Homo sapiens: one gene and its partners. The protein of the gene in region 4 interacts with the protein of the main gene of each other region in a biochemical or structural test. Each region holds a gene or a part of one and is shown on either strand. Other genes may lie near its edges. The genes, in order: CTTN, BAD, CDC42 and PAK1.

Region 1 (8,448 bases), 6.9 Mb from region 4:
CCGTTGCTTGTGGATTTTCAGATTATAAGACTGGTTTTGGAGGCAAATTCGGTGTTCAGTCGGAGAGGCAGGACTCCGCTGCTGTGGGGTTTGATTACAAGGAGAAGCTGGCCAAGCACGAGTCCCAGCAAGGCACAGTTGCCACCAGCCTCCTACCCTCCCCCCGACCCTCCTGTGCGGCCACTTCTAGCACAGACTTCAGGGCTCACCGTCAGCACCTGCAACACAGTCCTCCTGTGTCACCACTTGTCAGCTGTCAGGCTGTTCGGCACTTTAAACCCATTTCTAGTAGAGCGACACTGATTTTGAGTGGTTCACTTTCTTCCCTGTGAACTTGTGATCTGTGTATGGCAGGATGCGCCAGTTAGTGTGTGGGTGCCATCTTTCTAACCCGGTGACCCATCCAGTCTCTGGACTGGGGCATCTCCGGTCTCCAGCAGCATTCTGCCCGAGGCTGTTCTGCTGTTATTGGTGACTGCCGTGAGCCACTGAGTCAGGCCTTCCAGATGAGGAGAGAGGTGTTGGTTCAACCAAACCACTGGCCATTTGACCAGGGGCTTCGTAGCAGCAAGGGCCAGGAGACAGGCGTGTTCTGTGTGGTTTCTGTGTTTCATTTGTGGTGGTGTTTTTGGCCGGGGTTGGGAGGTTTTTTGTTTGTTCTGTTTGATGACACCATATGTGTGTAACATCTCCACACAGAGCCACACAGTATGTACGTGAAGCCAGCTCTGCATCCTTCCTTAGAGCAGTTATGTTGTTACCTTCAAAATTTGGACTTGGTTATTAGAACCTGAACACATAATTGGAAAAACAGTAATTCCCTAACCTTGCAGGGAAGACTCTAGGCTTTCCACCTGCAGCGTTAGAAACACACAGCAGTGTTCAGGTGTGGGCAGGTAGACACACCTGGGGTGGTCCCGCAGACTGCATGGAGATGGCAGTGGCTCTCCGTGGCATCACTGCTGCATGACAGTGTGACTTTCATGTGGATCTGTGTTGCTGCAACGGAAGTCTTTGGCTGGTAGAATTTCCACATGGATTTTTTTTTTCTCTTAAAAAGCAAGAGAACAAACTGCGATTGAGCCTCTTTTTAGCGCTCAGTAGAGCAGGCGCACAGGAAGCAGATGAGAATAAGCCCGTGCTGGTGCGGAAGACTGTGCTATTGAAGTGGCGCGTTGCAAAGGCCTGTCCGTGCCCTCTTTCCTCGCTTAGCTCCTGCCTGCTGCCCGCCGCCCCTCCTGCCCCTCCTGCCCCTCAGGGAATGCTGAAGCCTCTGCCCCTGGCCTGTGCTCTGCTTCTCACTGCCTGTGTCTCACGACCATGGGTGGAAGCAAAACTTGCCTTGCAAGTGAAGCCTCGCTTGGCCATTCTCGTTTCTTCCCGCTGTGGTGCACCTTCTTGGGCTGTTTCTGGATCTGTCTGCATGCACCCACGGCCACCCCCATGCTCGCCTCCACCTCAGAGTAAGTGTTGTGTTTTGCCACGTTTCAGACTACTCCAAAGGATTCGGCGGGAAGTATGGGGTGCAGAAGGATCGGATGGATAAGGTAAATATTCCAGCCCCGGAGCTTAGTGTCTTCTGCCTGCAGGGGCTCTTGGTGGGCGTGGCTCACCGTGCTGGCCAACATCCACGCGCTGGGGTGGGGCACAAGTGATTTCCGTCGTGGTGGTGGTGGTGGTGGCGATGACTGACTCGGACAGTCTTGTGCTCCTCATGGCCGTGCTGTGGGATAGGCGCTGGCACCGGCCCACCTCCTAACTGGGGGCCCCAGGCCAGGCAGGCTCAGCACCTGGCTGCAGCCATAGGAACCCAGATGTTTAACATGAGAGGTGAGAGCCTCGAGGGCTCATGTCCATTTGAACTTAAATTCTTAATAGTAAATCAGATTGGAACCTGAGTGTGTTAGACTGCGTGTGGGGCTACCTCGCTGGCAGCCAGCGCTGCGTGTGCGGTGATGAGCCATGTCTCCCGTCTTCAGCCTCGTAGAGACGCGGGCTCCACACTGCCTGCTCCTGCGCGTGGCCTGTGGTCAGGGGTGGCAGGGTCAGTCCTTGCCTCGCAGCTGACCACACAGCACCATCCAGGGGCGTAGGCAGGCAGAGCAGGTGTTCGGGCTGGGCTCCCCAGGGAGCAGTAGCCTGGGCTCATTTCTGAGGGCAGGCGCGAGTTCACCAGGAGAGAAGGCTCAGGAGACCACGGAGGGGCGAGGTGTGGGCCTGGGTGGGACAGGAGTCACTGCAGGTTCTCAAGGAGCCTAGCTGCAGAGGGAGGGTGGGGAGCGGGGATAGAGCTGGCCCTGGAGAGCCCCACACACCACAGAGCATTCTGCATGTCGTGACATGCGTCACACACCACAGAGCATCTGACGTGCGTGGCCCCAGAAAGGTTAGCAGGCAAGGAACACTGGGGGGGTCTACTTTGAGAAGCCCCCGGCCTCAGCGTGGAGTCTGGGTTGTGGGGGTTGGCCTGGGCAGAGGGGTGTGGTCCTGAAGAGAGCTGGAGGGGCTCGGGTGGTGGAGAAGCAGGGCATGGTGTTTGGCGCCAAGGGACGCAGGGGAGGGAGCAGTCGGGTGGATGTGGGGTGGACGTGGGGCCAACTGTGGAGCCGAAGAACTGGGAGGAGCAGATGTGGGTGTCAGCGAGAGAGAGCTGGGGTAGGGCCGGGGCCGGGTCCGGGTGGCGTGCAGAGTTGGGAGGGGAGTAGGCACGCGGTCAGAGGACACTGGGCAGGGGGACCCAGTGAGGTAGCAGGGGCCTTGCAAGGCACTGGGACAGACGGAGGGAAGGAGCTCCCCTGTGGGTGAGTCAGAGGTTGTGGCTTTGAGGCCGGAACCTGAGGGACTGCCTGTGTTGTGGGTGTCTGTGGTCAGCATTGCTGGTGTTGGCGGTGACCGCTGAGCTTGTGAGCACGTGAGGAGGCAGTGTGTGGGTGTGGCCTTTCGTGTCATTGTCTTTCATCCAGGAGGGGGTGGAGCTTCTCTCTCTGTTTGCTGTGTGATGGAGGAGTCCAAGGCTTAGAGAGGGTGACGTAACTGCCCGGGTCCCCATACATTGTGGGGATAGGGCTACAACCCAGGCTGGGAGGTGAAGTTGCCCCCTCAGGGCAAGGTGATGTCTGCAGAGGGCCCAGTGGGTGATGGGACCCAGTAAGGCTGATGGCCTTGCCTTTGAACAGGTGCAAGCAGCTCAAGGGACATGGAGTAGACGCTGGAGCTGACTGATGGGAGGAGGGAGCGGGGTCCGAGGAAGGACAGGCGGGCCAGGAAGGGGGCAAGCAGGAGGTGCTGGGCAGAAAGGGGCCATGGTATGGGGGCTCTGGTGGCTTCTGAGCCTCAGGTGTTCTCATCAGAGGTAGTGAAACCCACAGTGAAACTGGGTACGGCCACTGGTCTCCATGAGCCCTGACAGTCTCCACCTGAGTCAGCACGTAAGAGTCATCGCCGTCGCTTGGTCAGACCATAGTTGAGTCCCCTGCAATGCAGAAAGGTGTGATTGCACCACTGGGTAGTGTGTAGGACGGGCCACTGGAGGCTTGCATGTGTCCCCAGCGTCTTCGCTTCCTGTAAATGCTCACACCTCTGGGTGGCGACGGAGGGTGGGGAAGGCTTGAGGCTGATCCCAGAATTGGTTTGTGGTAGAGCAGATGGAGATACATGCATTTCTTATGCTAATGCTGACCCACGATTGCCTGCAAATGTGGTTGGTAATAGTTTTCATGCCTCAGTTAGTTTGCAAAACCGAGAGGCCATGAAGAGTGCTCTGGGCTGTGTGGCTGGGCCTTTGGGAAGATCTGGGGAAGGCATTTGCATCTGGCAGGAGCTACCACAGGGCATGGAGAAAAGAGAAAAGTGCTCTCCTGACGCCCATGTCCTGTCTCTGCAGAATGCGTCAACCTTTGAGGATGTCACCCAGGTGTCCTCTGCCTACCAGAAGACAGTACCTGTCGAAGCTGGTGAGTCCCGGCTGATACCAGGAGCACCGTGTGGTTTCCCAGGAAAACACTGAGGGGAAGGACAGTTGTGAAACAGCCAGGAGCAGATGCACCACTAGTTGAAAGCGTGGTTGTTGCTGCGTATTTTTGGGAAAGAAAATGATCGTTCTGATGAAGATCTTGTTTCTCCTGCAGAGGTTTAGAGTCACCTTTTAGACGCAGCATGGTGCAGCCGTTTCAGTGGGGCCCGTTTCAAGGGGCTCTTCCCAGAGCAAAGGGGCTAAGTGCACATTCACAAGGGCCTCCACACTGCCAGTGACCAGCTTCTGGGAGCAGCTGGGGCCTGCCCAACTCCCTGAGCCGCTCGGTCGCAGCTGTGACAGGAGGAAGACATCATGACGTCGATGTGCAGGCGACAGCAGACATTCTCTCTGCTGCTCGTTCTTGGGCCCTTGACAGGGAGCTCGAAACCTGTCCTTTTCTGTGCTGGACACACGATGGAGTCAGATGTGGGCCCTGCCCCGGAGAGTCAAGTAGTTGGGGAAAATGTTATACATACATGAGAGCAAGTGCTAAATTTAACACAGGATGCAGAGAGCCACCACTGACTTCCTTCAGGGGCTATGGACCCACAGTTCTCAGAGATTGAGGGCCCAGGACGCTTTGACACTTTGACCACTCGTGAGAACCCCCAAGATGTTGATGTATTTGATGACATTGACTATATTAGAAATTAGAGGAATGTGGCCCGGCACAGTGGCTCATGCCTGTAATCCCAGCACTTTGGGAGGCCAAGACGGGCGGATCACGAGGTCAGGAGATCGAGACCATCCTGGCTAACACGATGAAACCCCGTCTCTACTAAAAATACAAAAACAAAATTAGCCAGGCATGGTGGCGGGCGCCTGTAGTCCCAGCTACTCGGGAGGCTGAGACAGGAGAATGGCGTGAACCCAGGAGGCGGAGCTTGCAGTGAGCGGAGTTTGCGCCACTGCACTCCAGCCTGGATGACAGAGCGAGACTCCGTCTCAAAAAAAAAAAAAAAAGAGAGAGAGGAATGGTTTATTTATTTATTTATTTTGAGACCGGGTCTTGCTGTGTCATCCAGGCAGGACTGCTGCCTCAGTCTCCTGGGCTCAAGCAGTCCTCTTGCCTCAGCCTCTGGAGTAGCTGGAACTATAAGCGCATGCCCCCTGCCCAGTTAAATTTTTTTTTTTTTTGAGACAGAGTATCACTTTGTCGCCCAGGCTGGAGTGCAGTGGCGCGGACTCGGCTCACTGCAAGCTCCGCCTCCCATCCCGGGTTCACGGCATTCTCCTGCCTCAAGCCTCCGGAGTAGCTGGGACTACAGGCGCCTGCCACCACGCCCGGCTAATTTTTTTGTTGTTGTTGCTATTTTTTAGTAGAGACGGGGTTTCACCGTGTTAGCCAGGATGGTCTCGATCTCCTGACCTCATGATCTGCCCGCCTCGGCCTCCCAAAGTGCTGGGATTACAGGCATGAGCCACTGTGCCCGGCCAAATTTTTTTATCTTTAGTAGAGATGAGGTCTCACTGTGTTGCCCAGGCTGGTCTTGAATTCCTGAGCTCAAGTGATCCACCTGCCTCGGCCTCTCAAAGTGCTGGGATTACAGGCATGAGCGACATTGGAAAGTTATTAATTGGTTCACTTAAAAAGAATAAACCTTGGCCGGGTGTGGTGGCTCATACCTGTAATCCCAGCACTCTGGGAGGCCGAGGTGGGTGGATCACCTGAGGTCAGGAGTTTGAGACCAGACTGGCCAACATGGTGAAACCCTGTCTCTACTAAAGATACAAAAAGTAGCTGGGCATGGTGGTCCACGCCTGTAATCCCAGCTACTCAGAAGACTGAGGTACGAGAATTGCTTGAACCTGGAGGCAGAGGTCGCAGTGAGCCTTGATTGCGCCACTGCACTCCAGCCTGGGCGACAACAGCTAAACTCCATCTCAAAAAATAAAAATAATAATATAACTGGCCATGCACAGTGGCTCATTCCTGTAATCCCAGCACTTAGTGAGAAGACCGGCATTGTTTTGTTTTGTAAATCTCTTTAATAGAAGATGGCTGCACTCTCACATCTGCCTCTGCAGTCTATCGATGTTACGTTGTTTAGGAAGAACATGTGGAATCACCTAGGTAGGCGATTGGGAAAGGGAGGAGTGTTTGTAACCTTGAGGGCAGCGTGGGTGTCCTTCTGCGACGCCGCCCAAGCGTGCCAGGCAGTGGTGGTCCTGCAGGCCGGCTCCTCTGGCCCTGTGAGGGACTCGCTACCCACTGTGCTTGGGCAGCACTGTGTGTTGGTCATTTGGAAAATGCTGGGTCTCTGAGTTGTGCTCGTCTTCCAGTTGTGGACACTTCTCATTCCACAATACCAAAAAAAATCACATTTGCTGTCATCATCTATTTCATCTGCAGAAGCTGAGTGGAAATCAGCATGTTCATGTGGCAGCCTCACATTTTTCAAAATTCTGTCTTTTACTTGAAAGCTGGAATTTTCCCGTTGGCAACAAATACTCCAGTAATTTTTCTTGACACAATAGGCTTAGTTCATTCACTTGGGAGAAAACTGTTGCCAGATACCCAGCTTTGCATAACCATAGTTGGACTGTCAGTTGTTATTTCAGGGAAAAACGCTATTCCATGAGAAAACAGTCAACTTGCAGCTCTCATGGTTCTATTCATGGTCCTTGAGACACAGACAGCCACCGCCACAGTCCCGGACACAGCAGGGAAGGCTCATGTGTCTTCCCACTTTTTTTTTTTTTTTTTTTTTTTTTTTTTTTGAGACAGAGTCTCGCTCTGTCGCGAGACTGGAGTGCAGTGGCACAATCTCGGCTCACTGCAACCCCTGCCTCCCAGGTTCAAGCGATTCTCCTGCCTCAGCCTCCCGAGTAGCTGGGATTACAGGTGCCTGCCACCAAGCCCAGCTAATTTTTCTATTTTTAGTAGAGACAGGGTTTCACCATGTTGGCCAGGATGGTCTTGATCTCTTGACCTCGTGATCCGCCCACCTTAGCCTCCCAAAGTGCTGGAATTACAGGTGTGAGCCACCATGCCCGGCCATATTCCCCACTTTTGACTTAAATTTTTATCATTTTTTCTTAATAGACACGGGGTCTCACTGTCTTTCCCAGGCTGGTCTCAAACTCCTGATCTCAGTCTTCCCGTCTCAACCTCCCAAAGTGCTGGGATTACAGGCATGAGCCACTGCCCTCTTTTCCATTTTTGTCACACACAATATAAAAAAATGTATACTCTGGTTGAGATTTACTATACTCAGTATACGTCAATTACAGTATACATCAGTACCTTAACTGCTTTATCAAGGACAGATGTCTTTAAGGGAAATTGGCTGTTTTTATTTAAAAAGGTGAGTGTGGTGGTGAAGATACCGTCTTATTTAGAGATCTTCCTGATGCCAGGCTTAGGGGGATTGCCAGTCCCACCAGGTACGCAGTGCCCTGCGGCAGGTGCCCAGTGCTGGCTCCGGACCAGTGGGCTGAGCTGGCAGCTGCAAGAACCTTTCCCTCCTTGGGGGTTAGGGGGATGACCGGTTCCTGGGGAGGTCACTCTGTGTGGGTGGGGCTGTTGTCCAGGAGCAGTGTTTTTGCTGTGCTCAAGGCACACGTCCTCCCTCCTTCCTCTATAGTGACCAGCAAAACAAGTAACATCAGAGCTAACTTTGAAAACCTCGCTAAGGAGAAAGAGCAGGAGGACAGGCGGAAGGCGGAGGCGGAGAGAGCCCAGCGGATGGCCAAGGAGCGGCAGGAGCAGGAAGAGGCCAGGAGGAAGCTGGAGGTGAGTGGCAAGGAGTGGGCCGCAGCGCACCCTCCCTGGGACCTGTGCCGAGGGGATTGGGAGCTCTGGGGCCTGGGCGGGGCTTATTCTCTCCTGGCCAGGTTTTCCTTGGAAGGCATGTTTAACTCTCCTTTAAGGCTCTCCATTAAGGCACTTGTCACTTGCAGCCACACATAGGCTGAGTCTCTGGCCACAATGCTCCAGGCAGCCGGCTAGCGCTATCCTGGTCTTGCCGGTCCAGCCCCAGGACCCGCCAACCTGCCCTGCCCTCTGTCCCTGAGCTGACGGCAGAGTCTTGTCGGCTTCCACCTCCACGGGGCTCCTGTCCAAATGTCAGCCTGAGTCTCTTCTCACCCCTCCCCCTCTGGAAGCCCCTCCTTTCCCAGGTGGAAGTTTGGGGTTTGGAGGGGACTCTGTGCAGAGGCAGCCTGCTCTCGGGGCCTGCTTCTGCTTGGCCAGCCCAGCCCCGCTCACCCAAGCCCCTGGGCTGTGGAGAAGCGCTCCCAGAGAAAGATGCCAGAAGTGCACCCCTGGCAGGGGCGGAGCACGAGCCTGTGTCTGGGTGCTTTGGGTCTAGCCTGGGTGGCTTGCCACTGACAAGGACTTTCCTTGTGCTCAGCTGGATCAGGGGGGTTGTGAATAGAGCCTGAGGCCTACAGATGTGTGTGTGTGAAGTTACCAGGTGTGGTTCTGCAGC
Region 2 (9,441 bases), about 13 Mb from region 4:
CCAAGGTGAGTGCTGACCACCTCTGCTACCATCACTCCCCCCGCCCCTGTGACTCCGGATTCTCTTAACTCTTTTTTTTGAGATGAGTCTCACTCTGTCGCCAGGCTGGAGTGCAGTGGCACGATCTTGGCTCACTGCAACCTCCGCCTCCCGGGTTCAAGCGATTCTCCTGCCTCAGCCTCCCGAGTAGCTGGGACTATAGGTGCGCGCCACCATGCCCAGCTAATTTTTGTATTTTTGGTAGAGATGGGGTTTCACCATGTTGGCCAGGATGGTCTCCATCTCTTCACCTTGTGATACGCCCACCTAGGCCTCCCAAAGTGTTGGAATTACAGGCGTGAGCCACCGCGCCCGGCCTCTCTTAACTCTTTTACATGCTGCCCCCATACAAATCTTCTCACGCATGATAGGATGCTTTTGTGCTTGTTTGCTCATGGCCCCACCAGCTCACTAGAAGGTAAGCTCCACAAGGGCAAGGATTCCTGACGCTTGGGTTCACCGAGGCCCCCTAGCAACTGGAACAGCCTGTGTCACACGGTGAGCACTCACTGTGTGGCGCGAGTGAATGCTGAGTGTGTGTGGGGGGCAGAGAGCAGGGGAAGTTTGTGAGCAGAAAAATGGCCAAGTGCAAGCTCAGGAAGTTAAAGAAAGCTGTGGAGGCTGAGCATGGTGGCTCACGCCAGTAATCTCAACAGTCTGGGAGGCCAAGGTGAGAGGATTGCTTGGGCCCAGGAATTCGAGACAAGACTGGGCAACAAAGCAAGACCCCACCTCTACAAAAAATAAAAAATGAGCTGGTGTGGTGGCATGCACCTGTGGTCCCAGCTGTTCTGGAGGCTGAGGCAGGAGGATCGTTTGAGCCCAGGAGTTTGAGGCCTGCCTGGGCAACAAAAGGAGACCCCGCCCCTGCCCTCATCTCATGAAAATGTGAAAAATGCTGGGCATGGTGGCTCACGCCTGTAATCCCAACACTGTTGGGAGGCTGAGGCGGGTGGATTACGAGGTCAGGAAATGGAGACCACCCTGGCTAACACGGTGAAACCCCATCTCTAATAAAAATACAAGAAATTAGCCCGGCATGGTGACACGCGCCTGTAGTCCCAGCTACTCTGGAGGCTGAGGCAGGAGAACTGCTTGAACCCAGGAGGCAGAGGTTGCAGTGAGCCGAGATTGCACCACTGCACCCCAGCCTGGGCAGCAGAGTGAGACTCCGTCTCAGGAAAAAAAAAAAAAAAAAAAGAAAAAGTAAAAAATAAATTAACTGGGTGTGGTCCACACACCTGTATTCCCAGTTACGTGGGAGGATCACTTAAGCCCAGAAGTTCCGGGCTGCAGTGAGCTGAGATCGCACCTCTGTACTCCCTCCTGGGTGATAGAGCGAGACCCTGTCTCAAAACAAAACAAAACAAACAGAAAAAAAGAAAGCAAGCTATGGGGTCCAATCTGAGAGAATCGAGTGTGGGTGTTTATCCGTAAGAGAGCGAGGGGAAAGAGGCCTCTTAAGCCTTCTTAATCCTGAAAATGGGGAGGAGGTCTTTTAAGCTGCAGTGCCAGAGTGACATGACCTAGTTTTCTATTTTTAGAGATGGGGTCTGGCTATGTTGCCCAGGCTGGTCTTGAATTCCTGGGCTCAAGCCAGCCTCCTGAGTTGCTGGGACTACAGACATGTGCCACCCCACCCAGCTTGACCTGGTTTTTGTGTTCAGAAGATATCTGTTGTTGTTCCAGGTGCCAAGGCCAGTGCTGGGCACAGGGGTGCTAGAGCCTACTGAGAAATGGACATAGAACCCCAGTGTCCATCCTTCCATCTTGGAGCCTGTGCTTCTCACCCCACACAGCCCTGCTGTCTGGGAGGACTGTCTGCCCCTTGAGGTCATCTGCCCCTGGCCACTGTGCCAGGACAGTCCTGCTGTGGGTACGAGCCACAGGGCAAGAAAGAACACATCTGGGAGCTGGAAGGCCTAATCCCAGGGAAAGCATGTAGCCTGGGGCAGGGCACCAAGGAGGCTTCCAGCCCCCACATTCTAAGGAAAGAAACACCAGGAAGGTGTGGCCTTAGGCAGGCCCCTTTTCCTTTTCGGATCACTGCCTGCCTGTCACTGATTTCTGTCCTAACCCCACACTAATAGCTGCTATATATATATATATGTATTTTAAGAGCTGGAGTCTCCCTAAGTCACTCAGGCTGGCCTTGAACTTCTGGGCTCAAGCGATCCTCCTGCCTTGGCCTCCCAAAGTGCTGAGATTACAGGTGTGAGCCACCACGCCCGGCAGCAACCATTTTTTAGCTTTAATGTGCACCAGCTCTGTAATCAAGTGCATCCTATATGTTCCTGCTAATTAACTCAACAGTCCTACAATGGTGGTTATTAATTGCTGTTTTACGAAAGAGGAAACTGGGGCTCTGAGAGTTTGGGGACCGACCCAAAGCATTCAGTGCCTGTGGATGCAACTGGGATGCAGGGAGCCAGTGGGCTGGGGGTGAGGTGTCCCGGCAGGTGGAGGTGGTGGGGTACTTACCTCCATGATGGCTGCTGCTGGTTGGCTGCTCCTGCTGGTGACTGGCGTCCCACAGGAGGCCTGGGGCCTGGCGATGATGCTTGCCGGAGCCTGAGGGCCCGTCCCCTGCGGGGCTGGGGCCCAGGCCCCTCTCTGCAGAGCTGGAGTCTTCCTGCTCACTCGGCTCAAACTCTGGGATCTGGAACATGCTCTGGGCTGTGAGGACAAGATGTTACGTAGTCAAGGCACAGCTGGGGCCAACGGTGGCCCTGGAAGGCAGAGGCAGGTACCCCTGGCTTCCTCTCCCACCGTAGCGCCCCCAGGCCCGCCAGGCCTCCTGGGCCCTCATCTGTCTGCCGGGTCTGGCCTGGCAGGGAGCTGAGGCTGTCGGCTCAGGACCTCAGTCTCCCCTCAGAACCCCGGTGGACCCAGGCCCCGCCCCGCCCGTGGTGACGGCGCACAGGTCTCACCCCAAGCCCGATCTCGAGGCCCCTGACCCGGGCCTGCCGCCTCCCTCCAGCACCCCGGGCTCCGGGCCCTAGTTGCTTGGGCAACGGGAACTGTCAGCGACCTGGCCCAATCACCTCTCGGAACGTCACTCGGGTAGGTCCAGAGGCGGGGTCAACCCGGCCCGGCCCCGCCCCCCCGCCGGATCCAAGGCTCCTCGTCCGCATCCTTTTTCCTCCCTCCTTCGGCCCCGGGGCTCACATCCTCGCTGCCTCACACCTTGGGCGTGTGTGGGAGCAGGAGAGGGATTCTCTGGGGTCCCCATTTGGAACCTGGAGACCCACTTCTGCCAACAAGTCCTTCAGCCCCTCTGGGCCTTAGTTTCCCCCCAGTGAAGTGGGGATAGTGACAGCTCCCCCGGGAGCCAGTGAAAACTTTGTGAAGGGAGTGATTACTGCGGGCGAAGGCGCTTGGCACAGCCACAACTGAAGCTCAGCCGTCGGATGTGATTATTGTTGCTATTGTTACCGCTCCGCCTGGACTGGGTGCCCGGTCGGAAAGTCCCGCTCCCCGCTCCTCCTCCCAGGCGCGGAAGCTTCGCGCCGCCCGCCTCGGGGGACACCTCCCGCGCCATCTCGGGGGCACTGGAGATAAGGAAAGGAACCTCCTCCCTGGCTGGGATGGCTGCCCGGGCGCGGGAGGAGGGCCGGGGACCCGGTGAGGGAGGACCGTAGGGCCCGTGGGGGCTTCACGCCTGGCAGGCGGCCGGCCAGGTGAGCAGGGCCGCGGGCGCGCCGGGGCGAGGGGCGGGCCCGCGCGGGGGATTCGGGGCTCCGCGGGTTCAGGCCCGGGGGCGGGGCCCGGGGGCCATCTTGGCTATGGGCGGAAGTTTTCTTCAGAGACCGAGGGACGGGAATCCGTTGCCGCCCCCGGCCGGGCGGCACGACCCCGATTTGGGTATAGGAGAGAGGAGCGTGGGAACTGGCGGACCCCCATACAAGTAAAGGCGGGCGGCACGGGGCACGGCCCACCCGGGGACCCCCTGGATGCGGCACGGCCCCCGCAACTCGGCCGCCCTCCTGCCGCCTCCCGTAACCCCGGGCGCCCGCCAGCGGCGCAGCTCGCGCCAATTCTCGTACGGTTTCACGCCGGGTGCGGCGCTGGACTGCGGAGCCAGCCGGGCCGCTGCGCAATTTGCGTAGCGAACGGCGCCCGCGCAGGCGCGGAGGGGGAGGGGGGCGGAGCAGCGGGAGCCGGGGAGCCGGAGCCCCGGGTCCCCACGACCTGAGCCGGCTCTCCCATCAGCGGCCTGAGGACCTGGCGTCCGCCTCCTCCCTCCCCTTGAGGCTGGAGCGTGGACGCGGTGGGGGAGGGTGGGGCGGGGGCAGCTTTCGAGAATTACGAGGACAGGAGGCAGAGGCCCTCCCCATCCGCATTATTGGAGGAGAGAGAGCCTCCCCCAGCTTGGGGAGGGGGAGAGCGGGGCATTGGGCGCCCCTCGCAGCGGCCGCTGCCCTGACCCGACGGGTATCAGCCGGCTCTCCCCCTCCACCCAGGACGACATGAACGACCGAGGCCAGGGAGTCCTCTCCTTGGGCCTCTGCATCCCCCCATCCTTGGCTCTGGGGTAGGCCCAGGGAGGAGACACCCCCAACCCCTATCCGGTCTGTCCTGGAGAAAAGAGACTGCCCTTCCATGCCCCTGAGTGAGGGGCCTGGGGCCCAGGCTGCCTGTGTTCCCCAAGGGCAAGGGTCTCTCTGTTGAGGAGGAGGGGCCTGTCAGCCACAACTTCTTTCCTCCTGAGCGCCCCATCTCCCTCTCTGCACCCTGCAATTCCCACCCCTCCGTATTTATTTCCCTGGTCCCGCCGACAGTCCCTCCTTGTCTGTCTCCGGGATTCAGGCCTCCCTCCCTGACATGGAGAGTAACCTGTCTGGCCTGGTGCCTGCTGCCGGGCTGGTGCCTGCGCTGCCACCTGCTGTGACCCTGGGGCTGACAGCTGCCTACACCACCCTGTATGCCCTGCTCTTCTTCTCCGTCTATGCCCAGCTCTGGCTGGTGCTTCTGTATGGGCACAAGCGTCTCAGCTATCAGACGGTGTTCCTGGCCCTCTGTCTGCTCTGGGCCGCCTTGCGTACCACCCTCTTCTCCTTCTACTTCCGAGATACTCCCCGCGCCAACCGCCTGGGGCCCTTGCCCTTCTGGCTTCTCTACTGCTGCCCCGTCTGCCTGCAGTTCTTCACCTTGACGCTTATGAACCTCTACTTTGCCCAGGTAACCAACTGTGGTCCCGGGTGGGGGGCGGGAGGTGGCAAGCCTCAAGGACCCACAGGAGTGAAGGGCATCTCTGCTCCTAGGTGGTGTTCAAGGCCAAGGTGAAGCGTCGGCCGGAGATGAGCCGAGGCTTGTAAGTACTCGGGACACTGGTGGGCTCAGCCTCCAGGTCAGGGGCAGGTGACAGTCCCATGTAGATCCCTTCCCACCTCTCAGGGCTGAGACAAAGGCAACCCAGGGAATGTCTGTGGAAGATCTTGGAAAAGTTAAAGCACCTGGCGCAGATGGCTCAGCAGAGGCCTTGCAGATCTGCAAGGCACAGGAATAGGAATGCTTGTGGTAGTGTGAGGGAGAGGGCCCCAGTGTCATCCACCATGGAGGGCGAGCTGGAGGCTCCAGCCCATGGAAGCACCAAAGCCATATGCACTCCTGGGTGACCTGGGGCCGCAATGCCCTCGTCATTTGTACAGTGTCTTACGGTTTATAAAGAGCTTTCCCAGCCATCTTTTATTTGTACAATTTCCCTGAGAGGCTACTATCCTCCCTTGAGAGATGAAGAAACTGAGGCCCAGCCAGGTAAGACAGCAGGATCAAGGTCGCAGAGCTGGGGCTCAGACAGAGACTTCTGACTCCAGTTGGTGCACCTTCCGAAGTACCATGGCTGTCAGTCACCTTCTGACCTTTTTGGGCCTCAGTTTCTCCATCTGTAAGAGTGGAGGAACAGGGCTCAGACTGGATGCCCTGAGTTTTGTCGACATTGGGGTTTCCTGCAGGAGGTGGGGCAGGTGGTGAGTGCTGAGGGCTGTTGAGGGCCCGCGCTGACTGTGCTGTGGCTGCAGGCTCGCTGTCCGAGGGGCCTTTGTGGGGGCCTCGCTGCTCTTTCTGCTGGTGAACGTGCTGTGTGCTGTGCTCTCCCATCGGCGCCGGGCACAGCCCTGGGCCCTGCTGCTTGTCCGCGTCCTGGTGAGCGACTCCCTGTTCGTCATCTGCGCGCTGTCTCTTGCTGCCTGCCTCTGCCTCGTCGCCAGGCGGGCGCCCTCCACTAGCATCTACCTGGAGGCCAAGGTAGGGCTGCAGCACTGATGCCCAGGTGTCTTTTGGGTCTCTCGGCAGCGGTTCTCAGGGTGTAGAGGAAGCTGGGAGCCTTCTCTCCCTGAGGGTCCTCTGTTGTTACCTGTGCCAGGGGACCAGTGTGTGCCAGGCGGCCGCGATGGGTGGCGCCATGGTCCTGCTCTATGCCAGCCGGGCCTGCTACAACCTGACAGCACTGGCCTTGGCCCCCCAGAGCCGGCTGGACACCTTCGATTACGACTGGTACAATGTGTCTGACCAGGTGGGCATACGCATGTCTGCCACCTCCTTAGTAGCCGTGGCACCTTGGCCCCAGCTGGCCTGGGCCCTGTCCCACTACCCCTTTGGCGTGACTGCAGACTGGCACCAGCCCCTGCCTTCCCACAGGCGGACCTGGTGAATGACCTGGGGAACAAAGGCTACCTGGTATTTGGCCTCATCCTCTTCGTGTGGGAGCTACTGCCCACCACCCTGCTGGTGGGCTTCTTCCGGGTGCACCGGCCCCCACAGGACCTGGTAAGGGTCTGCTCCCTCTTCTGTGGGGCCAGTGGAGGGGGCGGATGTTGCAAATCCTGGGTTGGAGTCTGGGGTTGGGCCTGGGAGGCCAGTGCAGGACAGGAGTAAGTATCGATGATGGCTTCCTCCCCCAGAGCACCAGCCACATCCTCAATGGGCAGGTCTTTGCCTCTCGGTCCTACTTCTTTGACCGGGCTGGGCACTGTGAAGATGAGGGCTGCTCCTGGGAGCACAGCCGGGGTGAGAGCACCAGGTAGGAGCCGTGGCACTGCCTCAGTACCCCTGCCCTACCCGCCCACCCCGCTGGCTCCATCAAGCTATGGGGGACCGAGATAGCCGGGTCTTGCCTTCCACCCCTGCCATGGCCTTTGCTTCCCCATCTGTACTAGGTGAGGTCCCCTGGGTTCCTATTGCTAAAGCCTCCACCTCTTGCCTAGAGATGTACTTTGTCCTGGGCCCCGAAGGTCTAGGTCACAGGGGTTCTGTTCTAAGCCTGTCTTCCTCCTGCAGCTCTTGTGACTGTGGCCCTGGTCACTGTCCTGAGACTGACCCTGTTTCTCTGCTGCAGTATGTCGGGCAGTCTAGGCTCTGGGAGCTGGTATGGTGCCATCGGGCGTGAGCCGGGCTGGTATGGGGGCAGCCAGACGAAGACCACTCCTCTGCTCTTCTCCCAGGTGCCAGGACCAGGCGGCCACCACCACAGTCTCTACTCCACCCCACAGACGTGATCCCCCTCCCTCCCCCACAGAATACCCAGGCCCCAGTCCCCCTCACCCTAGGCCCCTGTGCCAAGTTTGTCTGCCGCTTCTTGCCCAGGATCCTGGGGGTCGTGGCTACCCCCTCCTCTGGCCGGCTCCTTGCTGCTCCTGTCATAGTGAGCTTGTGCCGTCCCCCTAGGATGGGGGGCATGGCCCTGGCTGCCAGATGCCCACAGCACCCTGGCATGACCTGCCACCTCTGCTTCCACACCGGAGCCAGCTACCTCTCCTGTGCCTGCCACTCAATAAACAGTGTCTGCGCCCCACAGTTGTGCACCTGTCTGTCATCTGCCTTGTGTTCCTATCACTTTTGCCTGTTTGGCCTAAGGCTGAACAGACACTAGCCCTTGAAGTGGGCTGCTAGGCTGGGCAGGGGTGACTTACCCCATCAAGGCTGGTGGGCTGGGAGAGGAGGGGCCTGCAGTTTGCAAGGGAAGGAGACCACACAGGCCTTTGTTCTCAAAGCTCTCCTGGCCCAGAATTGCCCCACTACCTCCAGATCCCTCTCCACTTGAACAGTTGCTACTCTTTCCTCAAGACCTGCGTCAACTGTTACCTCCTTTAGGAAGCCTTCTGTCTCCTGGTCAAGGGACATGGCCCCTCTGCTGGGCCCCACAGCTCCACATTACTGATTATGTGGCCATTGAGGTTCTTTGTTTTGTTTTGTTTTTTGAAGCAGGGTCTCACTCTGTCACTCAGACTGGAGTGCAGTGGCACGATCATGGCCCACTGCAGCCTCAACCTACCAGGCTCAAGCAATCCTCCTGCCTCAGCCTCCCGAGTAGCTGGGAATACAGGCACATGCCACCATTCCTGACTAATTTTTTAATTTTTAATTTTAGAGGTGGGGTTTCACCATGTTGCCCAGGCTGGTGTCGAACCCCCGGGCTCAAGCAATCCACCCACCTCAGCTTCCCAAAGTGCTGGGATTACAGGCATGAGGTACCATGCCTGGCAGCTTCTGAGTCTTAACCCCAATGGATTAGACTTTCTGGAGGCCCTGTTTCCCTATCACCACCCCAACCTGGTCTTTAGGAGTCAGGAGTTAGTCCAGGGCTTGCTGGGGAGTTGGCGCAGTGACTGAGCAGCCCCCATCTTCCTACCAGGGCGTGGGTTTGCCCAGATGTACAGGTGGTCCCCTAGCTATGCCCTCCCGTTAGCCCTCTTCTCCACTGTCCTTAGTAGCATAGTCACTGCCCTCTGCTTCCATGGCCCTGGCAGGTCTGTCTGATGGCTAGGAGTCCTTTGCTGGAGGGTCTGTCCCCTGCCCACATAGGTGGTTGTCCCAGCTTTTCAGAGTTCCCTTGGCTTATCACTGGGCCTGCTTCAAAACCCTTTACTTGGGACCATCCTGGGCACCAGGCCCTCAGGGCCTCCAGAGAGGGCATCTGAGACTCATAGAGAATCAGCTTGAAGCTGGACAATCACTTTTTGTTGAAATAAAAACTGCTAACGTTTGTGGGGCACTTTATTGTGTGTGCCAGGCTCTGTTTTGAGGATTTCTAAACACTGGCCTCCTTAATGCCCAGAACAGCACCCCGAAGTGATGATTAATCATCCCTTTTCTGTAAGTGGGAACAGGGAGACTCCAGAGTTTGGTAACCTGTTCAGGTTCCCTACCAGTAGCGGGTGGTCAGCCTCAAAGCCCAGGCTGAAAGCCATCCAGCATGAGGGCTGAGGACCCCAGCAGGCACCAGAGGGTCTTTGGAGAGGTCACAGGTTGTCAAGTGGGTGAGAACAGGGCGGGGCAAGTTCAGGACCAGCCAGGGCCTGGGTGTTCAGGCAGTGGGAGAGTGGATGCTGGCACCAGTGCCATGCTGGGATCTGCAGGCAGCTTCAGCCACAGCCTTCCGGGGCTGATTTCTGGGCATGGAAG
Region 3 (8,448 bases), on a different chromosome or scaffold from region 4:
TTTATCCAAAAAGAAGGAAATACTTTATCAAGAAACAATGAGATGCTGTATCATCAAAACAGTTAATGTAACAAAAAAAAAACAAGTAATAATACACCACAGGATGAAATGTTATACATACTAAAGATGACTGTGAAGGCCTGGCGCAGTGGCTCACGCCTGTAATCCCAGCACTTTGGGAGGCCAAGGCAGGAAGATCATAAGAGGTCAGGAGTTCCAGACCAGCCTGGTCAACATGGCAAAACCCCATCTCTACTAAAAATACAAAAAGTAGCCGGTGTGGTGGCTCGCACCTGTAATCCCAGCTACTCGGGAGGCTGAGGCACAAGAATCACTTGAACCCGGGAGGCGAAGGTTCCAGTGAGCCATGATGGCATCACTGCATTCCAGCCTGGATGACAAGAGCAAGACTCTGTCTCAAAAAAAAAAGTTGTGAAGGTTACCAACAAAGTAATACAATGTTATTAAAAGCACATAACTGTTAAATCCTTTTTTTGTCCTAAAGGGGAAAAAAGCGCAAAAGAAATTTAACAGTAGTTGTGCTGGTATGTGTGCAGTTGAAGAACAAGATCCCAAGCACCTAACAGACCCTCTCTATCTAATTAGGACACAAGTTAGGACCTAAAACATCTGTTAAAATAGAGTAGGTTCTTGGAAGAACGAAATCCTATTAACTTATTACAAAAGTTATCTAAGTAAGATATCTAAATGCCTACTACAGCATTACACTGGGTAACAGAAATCTTGCCTTCAAAGGCCTTTAACACATTTCAATAATTTACTAAATGCCTACTCTGTACCAAATTCTATGCTAGAAAGTTCATCATACATCATCTAGTATACTTTACTGGTTATAAGGAGAAGAGGCTAACAACTGTAGTAGTCTCAGATTGCTACAATTTTACACTATGAAATATGAGTGCCACAGATTTTCAGAGTAAACATGGGAGAGTAATCTAAAATAATGTGAAAATAAATCTCTAGTTAGATAGGAGTATCAGGAGAAAAGGCACAAGCAAGCATGCAAAGTGGAAAAAAGAAACAAACAAAAAAAAACTATGAGTCCAAGTCATATAGACTCTAAAAGCTAAGCAGAACAGTCACTTCTTCCATATCCATGAACAGTGTTTTAGGAGTATCAATATTGTGCCTGTATTCCAAGGTGGGCTGCCAAAGACAACCAGATAGTCAAGGAAGTCAGCTAAGAAACTAGGGTAATAATCTAAGATTGAAATGGAGGATCTGCCCTGCGGTAGTAGCATAGAAATAGAGAATAGGTCATCAGGTTGGAGGTGGAGTGTTTAAGGACAAAGTTATAAAGACGTTTTTTGGTTTGAAAAATTAGAGGATAGGTTTGTACCATAGACAAATGGATAAGTTCGGAAAAAATCTTTTTTTTTTTTTTTTTTTTTTTTTTTTTTTTTTTAAATAGAGCCACGGTCTCACTATGTTGACCAGGCTACCAGGCTCGTCTCAAACTGCTGGCCTCAAGCAATCCTCCCACCTAGGTCTCCCAAACTGCTGGGATTACAGGCATGAGCCACCATACCCAATCAGAAAAAAACTCTTAAGATCAGGCAACTTATGTTCTTATACATGCACCAAAAAGACAAATCTTTTCAGAATCAGCACAGAGTAATTTGGTCGTAAGTCTACAAGAATGAAATCATGCCAGCCTATATCAGAAATCCTAAACAAGCAGACATTTGCAGCATAAAATAAGTCACTACATTACCTAGGCAGCAAACGTGACAAATTCAGAACCTTTCTTTTAAAAGTTATGAGGTGAGATGCCAACTACAAAACAAACTATGATTATTTAGACTTTCTTTGTTCTAGCTGATGAGGTAGAAGTACCTACATTCAGATTCTCAAACAATTTGTCTTATAAACCACAAGCCATTTTTTAAATGGGTCAAACAGCCAGGCATGGAGGCTCACGCCTGTAATCCCAACACTTTGGGAGGCCAAGGCAGGCACATCATTTAAGGCCAGGAGTTTGAGACCAGCCTGGCCAACGTGGTGAAACCCCGTGTCTACTAAAAATACAAAAATTAGCTGGGTATGGTGGCACATGCCTGTAGTCCCAGCTACTCGGGAGGCTGAGGCAGAATTGCTTGAACCCAGGAGGCAGAGGTTGCAGTGAGCCAAGATCACGCCACTGCACTCCAGCCTGGGTGACAGAGTAAGAATCCGTTCTCCAAAAAAAAGAAATAAATAAAATAAAAAAGGGTGTTCCATAGGGGTGATGGGGAGGATGAAACGTCATCAAACAAGTTTAAGAAACATCAAGTTAGGCCGGGCGCAGTGGCTCACGCCTGTAATCCCAGCACTTTGGGAGGCTGAAGGGGGCGGATCACTTGAGGTCAGGAGTTCGAGACCAGCCTGGCCAACACGGTCTCCACTAAAGTGGAGATGGCCAACATCTCCACTAAAAATACAAAAATTAGCCGGGCATGGTGGCGGGCACCTGTAATCCCAGCTACTCAGGAGGGTGAGGCAGGAGAATTGCTTGAACCCGGGAGGCAGAGGTGGCAGTGAGCCAAGATCATGCCACTGCACTACAGCCTGGCTGATAGAGCAAGACTCCATCTCAAAAAAAAAAAAAAAAAAAAAAAAAAAAAGAAAGAAACATGAAGTTAAACTGATTGACCGTCTAACTTCCCTAACCCTTTAAAATAAACTTATATACATTATGATTTCCAGGATGAAGATATAATAAAGGGTTTCTTTTTTTTTTTTTTTCCTGAGACAGAGTTTTGCTCTTGTTACTCAGACTGAAGTGCAGTGGTGCAATCTCGGCTCACTGAAACCTCCACCTCCCGGGTTCAAGCGATTCTCCTGCCTCAGCCTCCTGAGTAGCTGGGATTACAGGCACATGCCACCACACCTGGCTAATTTTTTGTATTTTTAGTAGAGACGGGGTTTCACCATGTTGGCCAGGCTGGTCTCGAACTCCTGACCTCAGGTGATCCGCCCGCCATGGCCTCCCAAAGTGCTGGGATTACAGGCGTGAGCCACTCTGCCCGGCTGGGTTTCTAATTTATCTGACACCCAAGCCCATGGAAATGTCTTTCAGATATTCTGAAACACACTAAGCCACACAGGCCTTACTCTAAAATTATCCCCTACCCTCATCTTTACTAGCTTATCAACTATTAGGATGATCTAACATTTCCTTTGCCCCTATGATGAACAGAGCAAATAAACAGCACGAATAAAATAGCAAAATAAAAAAACACTGATATCCATAGAACTATCCTTTCAAGTTATAAACCAAACTTTACACATTCTAAAATCTAATCACTTATTTTAAAATCTTGTTAATCTTAAACCCTATAATAAAAATGTTTTTTAGGCAAGCAAGTGATATGAATGTATTAATTCCATTTCAGAATTTATCTAAAACTGAGTTCTTCTCCAATAGTATTCAGCTAATGAAACAAATACTAGTAAAGTTGTAATGAAAATCCCTGAAACCAGAGATAAGTGTTATTCAAGTAACATTATTCTTTCACTTCCCACTCCTCTTCATCTGCTTTTATATAGATTAAAAACAAACTAAAAATATTACAAATACTCCTAAACTGTCTTCCAGCAAAGCAAATGAACCATAGCTGAAATCTTGTTTATGCTTTCTTCTACTAAATTTATCCTCTTTTCTCATACCCCTTAACACTAATTAACATAATATTCTTTTATTCCACCTCCATCTCCCTCTGGTTTAATCATCTGTTCCTCATTTGATCTGTTCTCAGACACCTCTCCTCCTTCCACATGGAGTAATGAATTGCAATAATCTTTTTTTTTTTTAATTTTTTGAGACGGAGTCTCAGCTGTCACCCAGGCTGGAGAACAGTGGTGCATCCCCGCTCACTGCAGCCTCTGCATCCCAGGTTCAAGCGATTCTCGTGCCTCAGCCTCTCAAGTAGCTGGGATTACAGGTGCATGCCACCATGGCTAATTTTTGTATTTTTAGTAAAGACGGGGTTTCACCATGTTGGCCAGGTTGGTCTTGAACTCCAGCCCTCAGGTGATCTGCCTGCCTCAGCCTCCCAAAGTGCTGGGATTACAAGCATGAGCCACCGCACCCAGCCTACTGATAATCTTTCAATTGAAAAGGACGTAGATGGCTTCAAATGGCCACTTAAGACACAGAGAATGGACACAGGTAATAAACACAGGTGTTCCTGAGACACTGATCCCCCAGCTCTCAGGGATAGTCCTGGAGAATTTCTCCTACACCATATAGTTAAAGAAGGAAAAAGGAAATATCAGAGAAATAAATTCAATCTGGCCCTTGAAAAATAACAGGCTGGGAGCCGTGGCTCACGCCTGTAATCCCAGCACTTTGGGAGGCCAAGGCAGGCGGATCACCTGAGGTCAGAAGTTCAAGACCATCCTGTCCAACATAGTGAAACCCCGTCTCTACTAAAAATACAAAAATTAGCCAGGCATGGTGGTGTGCGCCTGTAATCCCAGCTACTTGGGAGGCTGAGGCAAGAGAATCGCTTGAACCTGGGAGGCAAGGTTGCAGTGAGCCAAGATCGTACCACTGCACTCCAGCCTGGGCAACAGAGCGAGAATTCTCAAAAAAAAGAAAAGAAAAATAGCAATAATTTTTTCAGGCGGGTAGCTGAAAAAGATGATTTTGGTTCTTAACATTTTCCCTTGAAATTGGAAATATGATTTTAGCAAAGAAAGCAGAAAACATGTTTACATTTGACAAGCTAAATGCCAAGTCTGTATTTCACCTAAGTTTTCATAATGAATATGAATTATCCTAATCATATGCTTAGACCATTCCTCGTCACCACAATTAGTTTTCAATAAAATGTCACTTAAGTTCAAATGTATAATTAAGGCCCCGTGCTGTGGTGGCACATGCCTGTAATCCCAGCTACTAGGGAGGTGGAGGCAGGAGAATCACTTGAACCTGGGAGGCGGAGGTTGCGGTGAGCCGAGATTGCGCCATTGCACTCCAGCCTGGGCAACAAGAGCAAAACTCCGTCTCAAAAAAAAAAAAAATTAAGGCCCGGTGCAGAGGCTCACAACTGTAATCCCACAGCTCTGGGAGGCCAAGGTGGGAGGTCACTTGAGGCCAGGAGTTCAAGAACAACCTGGGCAACATAAAAAGGCCCCATTCTCTACAAAAATATATATATATATTTACAATTAGCCAAGTGTGGTGGTGCGTGCCTGCAATCCCAGCTACTTGGGAGGCTGAGGTTGGAGGATCCTTTAAGCCCAGGAGTTCAAGGTTACAGTGAGCTATAATCACACCACGCACTGCAGCCTGGTGACATAGCAAGACTCTATCTCTAAAAAATAAAAATAAAATTAAAAAATACGTAATTCGGCTGGGTGCGGTGGTTCACGCCTGTAATCCCAGCACTATGGGAGGCCAAGGTGGGTGGATCACCTGAGGTCGGGAGTTTGAGACCAGCCTGACCAGCATGGAGAAACTCCCAACATGGAGAAACCCCATCTCTACTAAAAATACAAGATCAGCCAGGCATGCTGGCACATGCCTGTAATCCCAGCTACTCGGGAGGTTGAGGCAGGAGAATCACTTGAACCCGGGAGGTGGAGGTTGCAGTGAGTGGAGATCATGCCATTGCACTCCAGCCTGGGCAACAAGGGCAAAACTCCATCTCAAAAAAAAAAAAAACTTTAAATAACACATTAGTTCCTGATAATGGGCAGACATGAGGCAATTCTACGTAATAGGCAGGAAGCAACAATTCCTTTAAAAACTAAATATGCTTCAGATTCATTTTCAGATTATGATCCTTGCAATAAATTGTGGTACACTGCCTAAAATAAACCAGGTTATGCTTCCATAGGAAAATAAAATGAAATAAAGCATTCACATTGTTTCCGAAATTTGAGACATCACTCTAGCAGTCCTGAAGAGGGTGCTTCAAGCCTTAATACACATAAAAATCATGTGGGGATCTTATTAAAATAAGATTCTGGGTCAGTAAGACTGGGATGAATCCTGATAGTTCTAATGAGCTCCCAGGTGACACTTATGCTGATGGGTCCACAGACTATACTGCATACCTGAGGCCTGACACCCTTGCTTCTATGACAACGGTAAAGGTAACGGATAAAAATGTAAAGGAGGCCGGAATGCAGCGGCTCACGCCTGTTAATTCCAGCACTTTGGGAGGCCGAGGCAGGCAGATCACGTGAGGTCAGGAGTTACAGACCAGCCTGACCAACATGGTGAAACCCCCCCACCTCTACTAAAAATACGAAAATTACCCGGGTGTGGTGGCGGACACCTGTAATCCCAGCTACTCAGGAGGCCGAAGCAGGAGAATCACTTGAACCCGGGAGGCAGAGGTTGCAGTGAGCCAAGATCATGCCACTGCACTCCAGCCTGGGTGACAGAGCGAGACTCTGTCTCAAAAAAAAAAGAAAAAAAAAAGGTAAAGCAATCTCCACTTCATTTAGAAATGTTTTTGGGCTAGACATAGTGGCTTATGCCTGTAATCCCAGTACTTTGAGAGGCCGAGACGGGCGGATCACCTGAGGTCAGGAGTTGGAGACCAGCCTGACCAACATAGAGAAACCCCATCTCTACGAAAAATACAAAATTAGCCAGGGGCGCTGACGCATGCCTGCAATCCCAGCTACTCAAGAGGCCGAGGCAGGAAAATTACTTGAATCCAGGAGGCGGAGGTTGCGGTGAGCCGAGATCGCGCCATTGCACTCCAGCCTGGGCAACAAGAGCAAAACTCCATCTCAAAAAAGAAAAAAGAAATGTTTTTGGATTCATCAGATTAGTCCGGGAGAAGGATGGTTATTAAAATGTTTATGTTTGAGAGAAACACAGCTTCTCAAAGATGGCGGGGAAGGGTCCTCACAGTTGTGCCAAGAGCAAAAATCTATACAGCACTCACTATGTGCCAGTGAACAGTCCTAAACACTTCATATATATTAATTCAATCTTCCTAACACTGCAGCCCTGTTAGGTAAGCACTACTGCTACCCCTATTTTAGAGGAAGTAAACCTGAGTCACAAAGACGTTACTTAGACTGCACATACCTAATAAGTGGCAGAACCAGGATCTGAACCCAGGCAGTCTGGTTCCAGAGTCTATGCTTTTAATCATTATAGTAGCAATATACCAATCAAGAACACACAGCAGAATTGAAATGGCAAATGGCAATGGCTTAATTTTACAGAAAAGGATGCAAGGTTAAAGTGTAAAGCATTACAGAACAACAGTAACAGAGCCTAAATCAGACTTTGTCTTAAGGTGATAGAGCACCAGTGCTTAGTGAATACCATGGCTGAACAATATAGTTTTCTGCTCTATTAGAAATTGTTCTGGACTTTAGTATAATGGCTAATGCCAAATCTTTGATTTAAAAAATATTTTTCTAAAATTGCAAAAAGGGACGCCACATTGGTGGCAGAAAGCCTGGTTTCACTTCACGGAATAAGCAGTTTGAGATCAATGTCCCAGAAGAGTTTTGACATTCAGGACTTAAAATAGCAGCAGCAGCAGCAGAGGTAGCTGAAATGGCAAGTAATGAAAATTGCTTTAGTAAAAATATTTTGGACTGAAGGTATGAGAAACTAAAAGTAGAAACTAGTAAGACACAAAGCATAACATGACCAGGAATCTGATACAGTAGTGAACAAGCGGTAAAAGTTATTTGCAAACAAAGAAATAAAGGAAGATAAGGAAACAAACATTAAGTGAATAATTTTTAGGAGAGTAAGAGAACTAGTAGTCATCACAGATTTTCTAAGTGATGGTAAATTGTCCAGACAGTGCAGCTGCAGAAGATACTGACCTAAACAGATGGAAAAAGTCAAGCAAGAGTAGATTAGTAATCACTACTTCAATGAGCCCAAATAAAGATATGGCTGACCAAGCACAAAAGCTGTCTCAGGAAACACAGCAAAAAGGCCCATGGAATATTAGGGAAAACGTTAACCCTCAGACATCATCAAATTCATTCACTTAAAAAATATTTCTTAAAACCTACTGTATGTATGGCAGTATTCTAGGCATTAGCAATGGGGTGACCATGCCAGGCCAAAGCCCTGCCCTCACAGAACTTACAATCTAATGAGGAAATCTATGTGGAAGAGAACACTGAATAAGGCATTACCATAAAATTCCAGAATGAAGCCTTTTAATACAGAGAGATATTTTCATGGAAGATATGTTAACACAATATTTAACCCTCTCTCCCCTTCAAAGGAAGCCCTGTAGCCTAAGGTGCTCATTGTTTCTCATCCTCTCAAAAAAAAAAAAAAAAAAACTCTAAAACAATAGAGAAGTGCATTTAAAATACATCTATAAATAAAAGCACAACTAGTCTTTTACTTCCAAGAAAGCCTGTCAGCGGCACAGCAGCTCATGCCTATATCCCAGCACTTTCAGAGGCCAACAGGAGCAAATAGCTTGAGTTCAGGCATTC
Region 4 (4,026 bases):
CAAGAGGGCATTTTCTCACCCAAGGTGAATCTTGGTTCTCTAATTCCTTGGTTGGTTTCCATAATACACAGTTACTGCTGCCATTATGAAGTGTGCAGCTGATGAGGCAGTATCCACTCCAGACCTTTTGGAGCCTGCTTTATTGGTGGAAACGTGTGGTTATAGGAACATTATCCAGAGTGTGGAAACTCTAATGCCCATCACCTTCTGGGGCAAAGAAATGTAGTAGGGCCCAGATATCATACTCCGGAGAAGGACTACAGGCATTGAGCCATGGGGATTATATTTTGCACACCTAAGAAGCACTACATCTTCTCTAGTAGTATTAGGTGCTGGGATCCAATAGTAAAACCACACGACAGAACACTGGCCTCTAGCTCTGTTGTGCCATCTTTGAGAAGCATTTTCTCTGGTGTGATCAGAGCTGGGGCTCAAGCCTTATGGTTGTAGCTGTAGGATGTGATAGACCCATGGCCTAATTAGCCACCTGAGAATTCTACCAGGTATGACTGCCTTGAGCAGTTGGCTGTAGTCCATTATGATAGAGTTCTGCAGAAAACCAAATCCTTTGGGAGGCCAGTCCTCAGGGAATTCATCTTGGACAAGTTAACTTTCCTCTCAAGTGCCTACAGCCGGAATAATACATGAACTAGAGCTACACACAAACTAGGTACATATATTTTAAAAACATAATCTTGAGTGGAAACAATAACAGGCACAAAAGAATATATCTATTATGATATGTTTATTTAAAGTTCAAAAACTGGCCGAACTAAAATCTACTTGTATTGGAACACACCTGAATGTGATGAAAGTATACAGAAAAGCAAGAAAGTTATTTAAATAAAAGTCAAGATGGTGGTTACCTCTTAGGTGGGGGCTATAATGAGAAAGGAAGGACAAGATAGAGAAGGTTCTTACTGTCAGTGTTCCATTTCTTGATTTGGTGGATACAAGTGTGTTTATAATTATTCTTTAAACAATACAAATGGTTTTGGCCCATTTCTCTTAATTTATATTTAAAATAAAAGTGTTAAAAAGAAAGAATACACATTCAGGTATATAGTGGTAAAGGGGCATTCTATCTGCAACTTACCACTCTCAAATGGTTCAGGAAGAAACTACTCATTATTTCATATAAAAAATTAGAAAAGGAAAGAAAAAACGAAGAGAAAAAAGAAAGGCATACTCCAATAGAATATTTTCATCTCCTTTTATTGACAGAAATAGAAATTTGTGCTGCAGAGGCAGTAGTACCTCAGAGCATGAGAAGGTAGTCAATGGGGCTGACATGACAAGCCACAATGCTGGCCAGGGGTCCTACCATAGTGGGAGAACCAAAACCACAAAAATAGCAGGAGGTAGCAAACATCCCCAACACCCAGTGTAAGCATTTCCATTTGCAGAGAGCTTGGCCATGCATCTTAAAAACGGGGTCCCCTCACAGCTGGCAGGGTATCATGTCAGGCCACCAAATCCATCCAGAACTAACATGCAGTCTCTAATTTGGAGACTCTTTATTGTGACCAAAAGATTTGGACCATTAGAAGATCCAAGTTAATCTTTCAGCTCCTTATCCTAGGCAGAAAAAGGGGCTGAGTTCCTGAAACATCACACAAGTAGAGCTGGACAGGTGCTGATGCCCAGCCTTGCTCTAAAAGTAGTCACCATTTTCCCCGACTTCTCAACACTGCTCTCACTCAGTATGTGCCCTAGAAAACCTCTCAATGTTATAAACAAGGGACAGGATAGGGGCAGCAGCCTAGGGTATGCAGGGAATCAAAAGCTGCTACATAGCCGAGAGCATTTCACAAGAAACAGCATGGGAACACTATTGGGTCAAGGTCCTCCCGAACAGCTGCTAGAAGCACACACAAAGAAAAATGTGGTTGTTCTCCCATGTCAGGATCAGCTGAGCCAAAGTCATGGTCCAGGAAGCTGAGCCTCTTCATGTCCCTGGCAGATTATCAAACCCCATGGCATTCCCAAGCTGTTCCAGTTTTCAAGTACAATGAGGTGTCTGGGCAGTTGAGTCACAGAAAAGCAAGCACTAAAGAAATCTCAATTGATTACAAATTGATAATATTATCAAACCATAAATTTATATAGTCAAGAATTAATTGTGGGAGATGGTTATGAAGGAGGTGAGGATTTTGACACACGGAAGACTAGAAACATTTATTTATATAAACCCTTAATCATAAACCACCCTCATATCCATGAATTGGGAGGAAATTCCTTATTTAGAAATGGCCATCATCTGATTAGTCATTCAGTTGCAGTTCTCTTCAATGCTGGACACACGGTTTCCAAGGATCAAAGTCTTGAGGAGTGCTAGATCAGGAAATGGGAGAAGCAAGGCAAGGAGAAGAGGGCATCAGGAGTTGGAATTTCTGAAATGTGCATTTATCTCACAGAAGGCTTGGCACAATGAGGCTGGGGTGAGTGTGGTTTTAGTGATTGTTCTTTGTTGCCTCCTTAGCTGCAGCAATCAGTGGAGTGAGGCTGGAGAGGGGCTTGGCAATCTTCAGGAATTGATGCTAGAAAGGAGAAAAATAGCAAAAGACACATGACTATTTAACATTCTTCCCCAGTAACCATTACAAGACATAAAGGCATCTTTGTTTGTAAAGGGTGCTGTGTGGAAAGCTTCTGATCATCCCCAAATTGAAGGACATCTTAAAACAGACCACTTTGGAAAACTGTTTGGCAGCATCTACTTACAGATAAATACATCTACCTATACTCTAGTAATTCCAATCCTAGGTATATTCCCAAGAGAAATTAGTTTGTATAGCCACCAAAAGACATACACAGAAATGTTCATAAAAGATTTGCTTATAATAGCCAATAACCAGAAAGAACCCAAATGTCCAAGAGAATGGAAAAATGAATAGTGTTATATTCATATAATACTATACAGAAAATTACACAGCAATACAATAAGTAATTGGTACACTGACAAATGGGTTGAATCTCACAGACACATTAAGGGAAAGAAGCCAGACAAGCAAGTTCATATTGTATTATTCCATTTCTTCCGAGGTAAGCCTAACCATGGTGATAATCAGAATAATAATTACCTCTGGGGAAGGTATTAATAGATCATGACCCAGTAGTATATCGCAATACTGCATTTTAGGAGCATTGATCTAGGAATTTATTGTTCTATCCTCAAATCCAATAATGCTAATCATTCAGTAAAAAGTTCAGTAGCTTGGTCCTTTCCCAAATCACTTTCACTGGGCTGTACTTTGGGCCATACCTTCAACATTTAATGACTATTTAGGAGAAAATATTATATGAAAATTGCATCTAAATTTTCAGTAAAACTGTTACAGAAAGCAATTCCTTTTTTTTTTTTTTTTTTGAGACGGAGTCTCACTCTGTTGCCCAGGCTGGAGTGCAGTGGTGCGGTCTCGGCTCACTGCAACCTCCGCCTCCTGGGTTCAAGCAATTCTCCTGCCTCAACCTCCCGAATAGCTGGGACTACAGGCGCCCGCCACCACACCTGGCTAATTTTTGTATTTTTAGTAGAGACGGGGTTTTGCCATACTGTCCAGGCTAGTCTCAAACTCCTGACCTCAACTGATCCACTGGCCTCAGCCTCGCGAAGTGCTGGGATAACAGGCATGAGCCACCGTGCCTGGTCTAACAATTCCTTATGTAATTCTCAGAGCCTCTTAAAAATGGTGCTTTTTTTTCTTTTTAAACATTTAGTAGTAAAAAAGCTTTGTGTCTTAAAGCTGTAGGATGTTCTTCTATTTGATAAAAAATATAGGAGCTATCACATTTCCTTTTCTGCCCTGGCTACCAGGAAATTGAGAACCAGATTTGACCTCTAAACATAACTACTCAACTCACATGAGCATATCTGATTCTTCTGCCATACTTACAATTCCCTTGATTAGTCATATTGTATATATGTATACACACACACACACACACACACACACAGAGAGAGAGAGAGACAGAGAGAGAGAGAGAAAGAGAAAGAGAGAGAAACATATATACTAATATTCTTTG

Evidence for each region.
Region 1: of the proteins of PAK1 (region 4) and CTTN, one has a biochemical effect on the other in vitro, tested with the Homo sapiens proteins (one study listed by IntAct).
Region 2: of the proteins of PAK1 (region 4) and BAD, one has a biochemical effect on the other in vitro, tested with the Homo sapiens proteins (3 studies listed by BioGRID).
Region 3: the proteins of PAK1 (region 4) and CDC42 form a complex in vitro, tested with the Homo sapiens proteins (11 studies listed by BioGRID and IntAct, with this or other methods).

Annotation. Positions count from the first base shown.
Region 1 is NC_000011.10:70,421,449-70,429,896, forward strand, and holds part of CTTN (src substrate cortactin), read left to right. Parts: intron 1-21; coding exon 22-132; intron 133-1,060; coding exon of another isoform or gene 1,061-1,104; exon of another isoform or gene 1,105-1,491; coding exon 1,492-1,547; intron 1,548-3,883; coding exon 3,884-3,953; intron 3,954-4,248; coding exon of another isoform or gene 4,249-4,331; exon of another isoform or gene 4,332-4,639; intron 4,640-7,602; coding exon 7,603-7,751; intron 7,752-8,448.
Region 2 is NC_000011.10:64,281,662-64,291,102, forward strand, and holds the start of BAD (bcl2-associated agonist of cell death), read right to left. Parts: upstream 3,005-9,441; 5' UTR 2,970-3,004; exon of another isoform or gene 2,716-2,969; 5' UTR 2,708-2,715; coding exon 2,521-2,707; intron 1-2,520. Other genes in the region: integral membrane protein GPR137, read left to right, coding at 4,849-5,220, 5,304-5,353, 6,060-6,285, 6,404-6,553, 6,679-6,807, 6,942-7,060, 7,482-7,704. UniProt on the Homo sapiens protein: Promotes cell death. Successfully competes for the binding to Bcl-X(L), Bcl-2 and Bcl-W, thereby affecting the level of heterodimerization of these proteins with BAX. Can reverse the death repressor activity of Bcl-X(L), but not that of Bcl-2.
Region 3 is NC_000001.11:22,055,709-22,064,156, reverse strand, and holds part of CDC42 (cell division control protein 42 homolog isoform 1 precursor), read right to left. Parts: intron 1-8,448. UniProt on the Homo sapiens protein: Plasma membrane-associated small GTPase which cycles between an active GTP-bound and an inactive GDP-bound state. In active state binds to a variety of effector proteins to regulate cellular responses. Involved in epithelial cell polarization processes.
Region 4 is NC_000011.10:77,320,821-77,324,846, forward strand, and holds the end of PAK1 (serine/threonine-protein kinase PAK 1), read right to left. Parts: intron 2,541-4,026; coding exon 2,454-2,540; 3' UTR 2,335-2,453; coding exon of another isoform or gene 2,317-2,334; 3' UTR 1,197-2,316; downstream 1-1,196. UniProt on the Homo sapiens protein: Protein kinase involved in intracellular signaling pathways downstream of integrins and receptor-type kinases that plays an important role in cytoskeleton dynamics, in cell adhesion, migration, proliferation, apoptosis, mitosis, and in vesicle-mediated transport processes.